2 separate regions of the Homo sapiens genome follow, and region 1 is linked to region 2. A link means that fine-mapping ties the variant in region 2 to the expression of a gene that starts in the linked region. Tissue or cell type: whole blood. Region 2 holds a variant in brackets; the other region holds the start of a gene. All regions are shown on one strand. Distances are from middle to middle.

What was found. PIP is the estimated chance that this variant, and not a neighbour inherited with it, causes the effect.
Region 1: HADH starts here. The variant in region 2 is fine-mapped to the expression of HADH in whole blood (INTERVAL, PIP 0.98).

The regions. Positions count from the first base shown.
Region 1 is chr4:107,987,392-107,992,780 of GRCh38, reverse strand. It overlaps HADH (hydroxyacyl-CoA dehydrogenase), which reads right to left and starts at 2,892. Exons shown (of 8, transcript NM_005327.7): 1 at 2,717-2,892. The coding sequence starts at 2,848. RefSeq lists a silencer at 2,896-3,125.
Region 2 is chr4:107,964,721-107,970,109 of GRCh38, reverse strand. All of the region lies in intron 1 of LOC107986298 (a long non-coding RNA gene), which reads left to right. Among named protein-coding and RNA genes, the nearest start is that of HADH, 22 kb to the left of the region's middle. The variant G/A (reference allele first, on the strand shown) is at 2,894.

The DNA of each region.
Region 1 (5,389 bases), 23 kb before region 2:
CAGACACTGTGTAAGTGCTTGACATATGCTTGATATATGTAACTGCTTGACATATGCATGAATTCATTGAATTTATTCAATTCTCTCCCTACGAGGCCAGTACTAGCATTAGTCTACTTTAGAGATGAGAAAACCGAGACACAGAGGTAAAGTCCCATGTTAATACTGCATGAGGCAGAGCTAGCATGCAGACCATCCAACTTCTTATATTGAACTGTAGCCCATCTGTACTCAAAACACATCAACTAATTCGTCTCTGGCACTCAATAAGCAAAACAGATTTACCCTATGCCAAAAGCTGTTGGTCAAGGAGCATAAAGAATGAAGCAATACTGCCTAGAACTGCATGCTACAGGGTAGGGTGCAAAAGCAGATAAGCTAAACCACTGCAAAGCATTGCTCACAAATGTTTTAGAGGATTGGAGCTGTCAACTAAAGTAACTGAGGTTTTTCCAAACTGTGTTACATAAGGATGGAACTGTTTCTTATGGTCGTCCACTTTATAGATTTCTGGTCTTTATAACCTTTCAGAATGACAGTTCCATTATGTGTCCAGCCTATGGCATAAATAGCTTTTTTTTCCCTTAAGTTTCAAAAGGCACTCCCTGGTCCACCTATTTAAGAGTTTGATTGACAAGCACAAGCCTGTGTTCTCCATTAATGTCAATCATTTCTCCTTACTCCTTTGTCAGGTGAAAGCTCCAACACCATACCTGTAATTTTAGGTATTGCCCCTCTGCCTTTTAATGCAACACAACATCCATTTTTGGCCAATGATGGATGCAGCATTCAAAGAACTAAGCACTCTGATTTTCTACAAAAGTTGAAGTGACGCTTTCTACTTAGTTTCTAATCTTTTTCCACTGCTGTCTTCAAGGACACCAGCCACAAGTTTCTGGATCCATTTCCCATAATGTTCCTGGAGGCTGCTTAAGGCCCTAATATTTTGTTACTAAGATGTTGTTAAAATGTTTCTAAAAAACACATTGTTCTATTCCTGCTCACAACAAATCTCACTCTCACAGCCTTGGGAGATTTGGGTGGAGCCTGGGAATACAAACGTACTCAAACTAAACTTTCTCTTGAGTATAACCTGTGGAACTTTTAGGTTAAAGGGAGTTACTCCTCCCAGTCCACATACAACATAGATTATGGGGATACTATAACCTAGCAGCCAGGGGATCCACACAATAAAAAGGGCAATGTATGTCCAAAATTATGGTCTCAGAGGAAATGGGAGACTGTAAGAAGTCATATAAATAAAACATTACAGGGATATAGCTTTTAGAAGAAAATGCAATCAAATAAAAACGTTGTAAAAAACTTGCCAAGGAGAAGAAAATTGAGATATATAATACCTAATAGTAAAAGGTTTTTTTGTTTTTGTTTTTAAAAAGCAAGCATGAAAGCGTGGACTTGGTTGGAAACAAGACATTGAAAAAGTAAACTCTCTCATGACTGTAGCCACAGTAGTACTGTCCCCAAGAAAAATTAGATGACTATAACCGCCTTCCCCAACAAACCAAGTTGCAAAGGACTGAAATGCTAAGAATATAATCAGCTAGGATACGAAAACCATGGTTCTCCAATGTGAGCTGAAATGGAATAATTTTTAAAAAAAAAAAGTACAAGCATTACAGTAGCCAGGTAATCAATCACTCGCACAACTGAGCCTGAACCACAGCTCAGCAGAACAATGGAAAAGCCCTGAAGATGTACAATGGATAAAAGACTTGTTCCGGCTGGGTGCAGTGGCTAACGCCTGTAATCCCAGCACTTCGGGAGGCCAGGCGGGCGGATCACCTTTGGTCAGGAGTTCGAGATCAGCCTGACCCACAAGGTGAAACCCTGTCTCTACTAAAAATATAAAATTAGCCGGGCGGGGCGCCTGTAATCCCAGCTACTCGGGAGGCTGAGGCAGGAGAATCGCTTGAACCCGGGAGGCGGAGGTTGCAGTGAACCGAGATCGCGCCATTGCACTCCACTCCAGCCTGGGTCAAAGAGACTCCGACTCAAAAAAAAAAAAAAAAAAAAAAAGAGAGAGACTTATTCCGCTGCAGCGCCAAAATCGCAAGCTCAGAACTCTGCACAGACGGCACTATTTCAAAGGTCAAAACCAGGACCTCAGCAATCTTCCATTAGGTGACTTTACAAAGTGCTACAAAAGTCATGACTACTACTATTCTTTACAACCTAGCAAGCGAAGGAAAGACCGGGGAGAGCCGGGAGGCCGTTTAGGAGAGAAAACTACTTTGACAAAGACTGCACAATTACAGAATAAAAATCAAAAATAACTGATAGAATTAAAACTGATCGCAGTTCATGTCTTTGGCAGCAAACTCCCGTTTGAGCCGAGCAGGAACAAACGCGTTATGCCTGAACCTTGTGCACATACAATTCTTTCTTCTCTTGCACGGCCCGCTTCCAAAATGCATTCACCGCCACTCTCCATGGAACCTTCAGCGGGCCCTGGGGGCAGCCAGAATTTTCCAAACGAGGAAGCTGAGGATCGGCCCAGAACCCTGAATTTTGAGGGGAGTGAGACTTGGGCCCTCACAGGCCCAGACGCGAGATATTTCAACTACACCCGGGAGGCGCGGGGTGAAAACTCCCTGGTGTCGGGCGGGTGCAGGCCCCTCGCGGCCGGTCGCGCCAGAGCTTCCACCTCAGGGTGGGCGGCCAAGCGCGTGGGCACGCTGCAGGGAGGGCCGCTCACCTGGGCAATGCCGGCGCCCATCAGCCCGCCGCCGATGACCGTCACGTGCTTGACGATTATCTTCTTGGCCGAGGCCGAGGCGGTGGACGAGGAGGACACGGAACGCATGAACTGCCTGGTGACGAAGGCCATGGTGTGGCAGCGGCGGCGACAGCGAGGAGACCCGGGCAGGGAAGACGCGCGAGGCGGGCAGCCGCGGAAAGCCAGACTCTGGGGGCGGGGACCTACGCGGCCCTGCAGCCCGCGCGCCCCCGGCGTCCCCGTGACGCCACAAGGCGGGGGCGGGGCCTCGAGTCCCGCTCTGCCCATTGGCCCTGGCTGTAACGTCCCAGCGTTGAGCGGGTATACACGCGCGGGCTCGCAGCTGTCAGCAGCCGGAGCCCGAGTGAGCGCGGGCTTGAGACCTGCTGAGCAGCGGGACCTGGCGGCTGGCGTTCTGGTGTGGGGCCGAGAACAGACCCTTCTTCTGAAAAGCCACTGGCCCCTTGTTCTATGAAGTGAGTGGTGTTGACTCTGTAAAATGCTATCCTTTGATGACATGTGCATATCTAGGCTCTGAAGAAATATGTGCTGCTTGGCTGTGTTGGTAATGGACCCAAAATGTGCACCGTTGGTTGATGTCACCAAATAATCAACTCGGGATTATTTTAATCCCGTGGACAGTGATTGTTTCCCCTAAAAGGGAAATAAATGTAGACTGCGAACACCCAAAACAAATGTCTAGTGACCATGAGTTACAATGCAAAAATCAGGCTCAGGGAAGGTAAAGAGAGAGTTGACCTTTAGTTACCCATCTTGACGTTGGACGTCTATCAGTGCAGTGAACATGTGGACGGTTTAAGGTCATAGAGCAACCTTTCTGGAATAACGAATACTATTAGAAAGCATAGGAAAGAAATGTCTTGTCAAATAATGGAAGACTGGATAGCAGCTTGGCCAATCTTCTCACTCAGGTGAATACTTTCTAATTACTGTAACTTAGTGATATAGGATTCTTATTAATTTATTTGCTTTATGTTTAAATATTGTTAACAAAAAAACTTCAAACAAGTTTAGCAGAGTTTATCTGAGCAAAGAAAGCATGAATCATGTAGTATCCTGAGCCAGTAAAGGTTCAGAGAGCTCCAGCCCCTAACAGTGGGCAAGCCGCGTTTATAGACAATATTTTTTGCAGCCTGTAATGGGCTAAAAGCTCCGCTGCGGTGATTGGCCAAGACTTGGCCACTTGTTAGAAGAACGTACTCTCAAATTACATTGCAGTTTATTTACATATTAGGTTTGATTATGCTTTGCTAGGTAGGGAGGCAACTTTAGGCCAGATTTAATTTAATAACAGTTTCCTCCTTTGGGTCAGCCTCTCAGTTTTACGAGATTGACCAGAACCTTGTTTTGTCTCAGTATGGAAGTCACAATGTCAAATTAGTTGAGTGATTATACTTTCTTCATGTTGTTATTCTAACTGTAATAACACCATTTGGTGTACAAAGGATGGCTGCATAGAGACATTGAAGACTCTCGAGGGGACAACAACACATCAGGGAGACTATTATGGCCACGAGAAGGAGTATAGCAATAAACTGAGGTACACACCTTAACAGGAGTCTCCACAAACTGAACTGATCAAAATTAAACAATTCAAAGTTCAGGCAATAAAGATAGTTCAAAGTATTTGAGTCCAATTGGTCATGGTCTAATTTAGGGCATTATGGCGGTTAAGGACTGCTAGAAATGCTTATTTCTTGGTGCCGTAAAGAAATAGCACTTGAACATAAAATTAATTTCTTTAGCAAGGCCATTTTTACTTTCTGCGGAAAGAGTACACTCGCCAGCAGTTTTGCCACAAGAGTACACCGAACAAAGGAGGCAGGGTCATTTATAACCTGACCCGTCCACCTTACTGTTGTGACTGGTTTCCATTGGCTAGAACGGGACTTCACATTCTGTATTTGTCTTGATTGGCTAGCAACTTAGAAATTCTTAAAAGAGGCAAAGGCAGAGGAGAACAAAGGAAGGAGGAAGTAACTTGTGGAATGCTGAGAAGGGAAAAACACCTCTAAATAAGGAAGAGGAACAGGCTATGACCTAATGCCCACTTGGACCAGTATAAGCATGCCAGGGCAAATATTTAGGCTAAATTGTGGGAGCTAAGAACATAAAGTACATTGATTTCTTTATTACAGCTAGCAGATATTTAAGAATGTTAACAGGTCTTTGAATAAATTTTGCTTCTAAGAGAGGTTACTATTTATTCCTAATCAGATGAGGAGGAAAGTCTTTGAAAAGGAACCTCTACTTTACTTTTTACAAGGACCATAGTTCACTGAATGACCTGATTCAGCCTTATGGCCTGATTTAAAGAGGTATCCATTTTTGTAATTAGCCTGGTAACACAAGTTATAATAACCTGGAGAGCCACTAAAGAAGCATAAAGATTAGAAAAGTTTGGAATAGCCTAGCTTGCCTTTCACTACTCAGGATGCCTACAAACCAACCATTAGCTGCTCCCATAAATGTATCATGTGTTCCTTTCCCCTGAGAAGTTTCCTTAATATATTCAGTGGCAGTGTTTAGAGAAACAGCAGTATCTGCCACCTTTTAAATTAAGTTTTCTATAGTAGTAAAATTAGAGGAAAAATAAGTGCAACATTCAGTTTTATTCAGCACCATGCAAGA
Region 2 (5,389 bases):
TTCCTTGGCTGTTCACTTAAAAATCACCCTCCCAGTGAGGCCACCTTCCCTGGTCTCGCCACCTAAAATTGTAACCTCTCCCTGACATTTTGTATCCCCTTGCTAGTTTTATTTCTTAACACTTATCACTAACATGCTACACATTTTGTTTCTCTTATCCATTCAACTTTTTTTCCCCTTTCAGGAATTAAGCCTCTTCTTTTTTTTTTCTTTTGAGATGGAGTCTCACTCTGTCACCCAGGCTGGAGAGTGGTGGTGCAATCTCTGCTCACTGTCACCTCCACCTCCTGGGGTTCAAGCAATTCTCCTGCCTCTGCCTCTCGAGTAGCTGGGATTGCAGGTGCCTGACACCACGCCCAGCTAATTTTTTGTATTTTTAGTAAAGACAGGGTTTCACCATGTTAGCCAAGCTGGTCTCGAACTCCTGACATCAAGCGATCCACCTACCTCTGCCTCCCAAAGTGCTGGGATTACAGGCATGAGCCACAATGCCTGGCCAGGAATTAAGCTTCTTACATCACAGATTTTTCTTTTGTTCACTGCTGTGCCCCAACATCTAGAACAGGCCTCATAATTGTTTTGTGCATGGATGAGGGTGGGTATTCCATTGACCATAGTGTTGAGCATGTGGATTTTTTATCCCTTTTTTTCTTTTCTTTCCATTTCTCTTCTCCATTGCTCTCAAATATATCACTGCAATGAATAACGTATCCCAAACTATTTTTCATCTGATTATCTCCCATAGTTAGTATCTTAGAGTAGAATTTATTGGGCTAAATGACATAAATGCCTAATTTTTAAAATTTGGGGATGATTTTAAGTTACAGAAAAATTGCAAAAATGGTCCAAAGTTCTTATATTTCCTTCACCCAACCTCTACTAATTTTGACATCTTACATAACCATGGTTCATTTGTCAAAACTAAGAAATTAACATTGGTATGATACTATTAACTAAACTACAGATGTTATTTGAGTTCACCAGTTTTTCCACTAAAGTCAGTATTCTGTTCCAGGATTCAATCTAGGATGCCACTGTGCATTTAGGAATAATTAGAATCTTGGTACATATTCTTAAATTTTCTCCAGATATGTGGTTCCAGTCTGTATTGCCAACAGCAATGTATGACTGCTTCTCTCTTATCAATACTTAGTATTTTCCTTTTTCAAAAATATCTTTAAAATTCAATGGTTAAAAATGGTGTCTCACTGTAATAGTTCCATTTCAATGAATTTGAAAAATGTTTTATATTATTGGCCATTTGTATTCCTAAAAATTTTTGGCCAGGCATGGTGGCTGATGCCTGTAATCCCAGCACTTTGGAGGCTGAGGCAGGTGGATCACTTGAGGCCAGGAGTTCGAGACCAGTCTGGCCAACAGGGTGAAACCTTGTCTCTACTAAAAATATAAAAATTAGCTGGGGGTGGTGGCACGTGCCTGTAATCCCAGTTACTCGGGAGGCTGAGGCACAAGAATTGCTTGAACCTAGGAGGTGGAGGTTGCAGTGAATCGAGTTTGAGCCACTGCACTCCAGCCTGGGTGACAGAGAGAGACTGTCTCAAAAAAAAAATTATATCTCAAAAATTAACTCAAGATGGATTAAAGACTTAAATGTAAAACCCAAAACTATAAAAACTCTAGAAGATAACCTAGGCAATACCATTCAGGACATAGGCACTGGCAAAGATTTCATGATAAACATACCAAAAGCAATTGCAACAAAAGCAAAAATTGACAAATGGGATCTAATTAAACTAAAGAGGTTCTATACAGCAAAAGAGACTATCAACAGAGTAAACAGACAACCCACAGAATGGGAGAAAAATTTTGCAAACTACATTCAACAAAGGTCTGATATCAAAAGTCTATAAGGAACTTAAACAAATTTACAAGAAAAAACAAACAATCTCATTAAAAAGTGGGCAAAGGATATGAACAGACACTTCTCAAAAGAAGACATACATGTGGCCAACAATTATATAAAAAAGCTCAGTATCGCTAATCATTAGAGAAATGCAAATCAAAACCACAGTGAGAAACCATTTCACACCAGTAAGATTGGCTGTTAAGAAAATAAAAAAATAACAGATGCTAGTGAGGTTGTGGAGAAAAAGGAATGCTTATACATTGTTGATGGGAGTGTAAATTAGTTCAACCATTGTGGAAGACAGTGTGGTGATTCCTCAGAGACCTAAAGACAGAACTACTTTTTGAGCCAGCAATCTATTACTGGATATATACCCAAAGGAATATAAATCATTATATTATAAAGACACATGCACACATGTTCATTGCAGCACTATTCACAATAGCAAAAACATGGAGTCAATCTAAATGCCCATCAATGATAGACTGGGTAAAGAAAATGTGGTACATATACAACATGGAATACTATGCAGCCATAAAAAAGAATGAGATCATATCCTTCACAGGGATGTGGATGGAGCTGGAGGCCATTATCCTTAGCAAACTAATGCAGGAACAGAAAACCAAATACCTCATGCTCTCACTTATAAGTGGGAGCTAAATGATAAGAACACATGGACACATAGAGGGGAACAACACACACTGGGGCCTATCTCAAGGTGGAGGGTGGGAGGAGGGAGAGGATCAGGAAAAATCACTAATGGGTACTAGGTTTAATACCTGGGTGATGAAATAATCTGTACAATAAACCCCCATAGAAGTGACTATGTTGTCTGGGGTATATACCCTGGGGTTCATGGTCGTGCACCAGGAAAATGTTAAGACATGGACAAACAAGAGGAGTTTAGGAGTGGAGGTTTAATAGGCAGAAGAGAAGAGAAAGAGAAACAGCTTTCTCTATAGAGAGAGTGGGGTCCCTGAATGGAAAAGACCTGCAGGTGGCATTGAATTTTATAGTCAGGTTTGA[G/A]GAGGCAGTGTCTGATTTACAAAGGGTTCACAGATAGGTTCGATCAGGTATGACATTTACATAGCAGATGGGGAAAGGCCGGTTGTCTCACCCTAATCTTATTATGCAAATGGGCTTTCCAGTTGATCTGAGCCATCTTGTCTGCTTCTTACTGTACACATGGCTGGCAGAGAAGGGAAGATGAAGCTGCCATCTTAAACATGTCTAGCCCCTAGTTCCTGCCAGCATTCACCCATGCAAGCTCCCAGCTTCCTCGTCTATGTCTGCCGCTTGACTTTACAGGCTGCTCTTTGTTAGACAATGATTTGGGGCTGCTTTTCATTAAAGAGAAAAGCCTTACCGAGGACTTCTGTACCCTCACTATCTGCCTAAGTGATTTCTTCTTAACTCCTGTATCACCATGACACAGTTATCCTATGTAACAAACCTGCACATGTACCCCTGAACTTAAAAGTTTAACACAATAATTTGTATCTTTTGCCTGTTTTTAAAATTAGGGTATTCTACTACTGAATTATAGCACTTACAGTTCACTAGAAGAAATACTATGCTATAGTATATGAAAATATTAAAGATACTATATATTATAGTATATATGGATTTATAAGCACTGACTTATAAGCACTTTATATATTAAGGATATTGAATTTTTGGCAAGGCTGATACAAACATTTTTTCATGATTTGCCAGCCGTTTTTTGGAATACAAGAGTTTTCTATTTTTATGTCATTAAGTGTATGCTGTTTTAGTTTTCTGATTGATTCTATTATTTTTTTAAGAGTTGGATTTTTTCTTTTTTTCTTTAAACAGCCTTATTGAAGAACATTGATGGATAAAAATTGTACATATTTAAGGTATACAACTTGATGTTTTGATGTATGTATACATTGTGAAATGGTCTTCACAATCAAACCAATTAACATATCTATCACCTCACCAAGTTACCATTTTCTTTTTCTTCTTTTATTATTATCTTTTTTTGTGGCAAAAACATTTAAGATCTACTTCTTAGAAAATTTCAAGTAAGGAATATTGTTAATCATAGCCACCAGGCTGTACATTAGATCTGTAGAACGTATTCATCCTGCATATTGAAACTTTTTATCCTTTGACCAGCATTACCGTTTCTCCCTCCCTACTGCCCCTGGCAACCACCATTCGCTTTATAATTCTATGAGTGCGACTATTTTAGGTTTCACACATCAATGGGATCAAGCAGTATTTGTTTTTCTGTGTCTGCCTTATTTCATTTAGCATAATATCCTCCAGGTTCATCCATGTTGTTGCAAATGGCAAAATTTCATTCTTTCCTGAGGCTGAATAATATTCCATTGTGTGTGTGTGTGTGTGTGTGTGTGTGTGTGTGTACACCACATTTTCTTTTATCCATTCATCCATCAGTGGATACTTACACTCTTTTCATATCTTAGCTGTTGTGAATAATGCTGCAGTGAACATGGGAGTGCAGATAAATCTTCAAGATCTTAATCTTGATTTCCATTTCTGTGGGTATATCCCAAAAGAGGGATTGCTAGATAATATGGTCGTTCTATTTTTTATTTTTTGAGGACCCTGTATACTGTTTTTGATAAAGGCTGTCCCAATATAAATTCTCATGAACACTGTACAAGGGTTCCCTTTTTCCTGCATCTTTGTCAACACTTTTAATCTCTTGTCTTTTTGATTAATAGCCATCCTGATAGTTATGAGGTGATGTTTCATTGGGTTTTCATCTGCATTTCCCTGATGATTAGTGATGTTGAGCACCATTACATATACCTGTTGGCCATTTGTATATCTTCTTTCTAGAAATGCCTATTTAGGTCCTTTGCCCATTTTATAATTGGATTATTTGCTTTTGCTATTGACTCGTGTGAGTTCCTTATATATTTTGGATATTAACTCCTTGTAAGATATATGGTTTACAAATATTTTCTCCCATTCCATAGGTTGTTATTTAACTCTGTGATTTTTTTTTCTTTGCTGGGCAGCAGTTTTTTAATTTGATGTGATTCTACTTGTCTATTTTTGCTTTTGTTGCCTGTACTCTTGCTATCTTATTCAAACATATTATTGCCAAGACAAATGTCAGAAAGCTTTTTCCCTATGCTTTCTTCTAGTAGTTTTACGGTTCTGAGTCTTATGTTTAAGTTTTTAATCCATTTTGAGTTTATTTTTGTTTATGGTGTCAGATGAGGGTCTAATTTCATTCTTTTGCCTGTGAATATCCAGTTTTCCCAACATTAGTTATTGAAGAGACTATCCTTTCACCATTGTGTGCTCTTGGCACTCTAGTGAAGATTGACTGTGAATGCATGGATTTATTTATGGGCTCTCTATTCTGTTCCGTTAATCTATATGTCTGTTTTTATGTCAGTACCATCGCACTTAGGTTACTGTAGCTTTGAAATATCTTTTGAAATCAGGAAGTGTGATGTCGCCAGCTTTATTATTCTTTCTCAAGATTGCTTTCAACCTGGGCAACATGTCAAATCT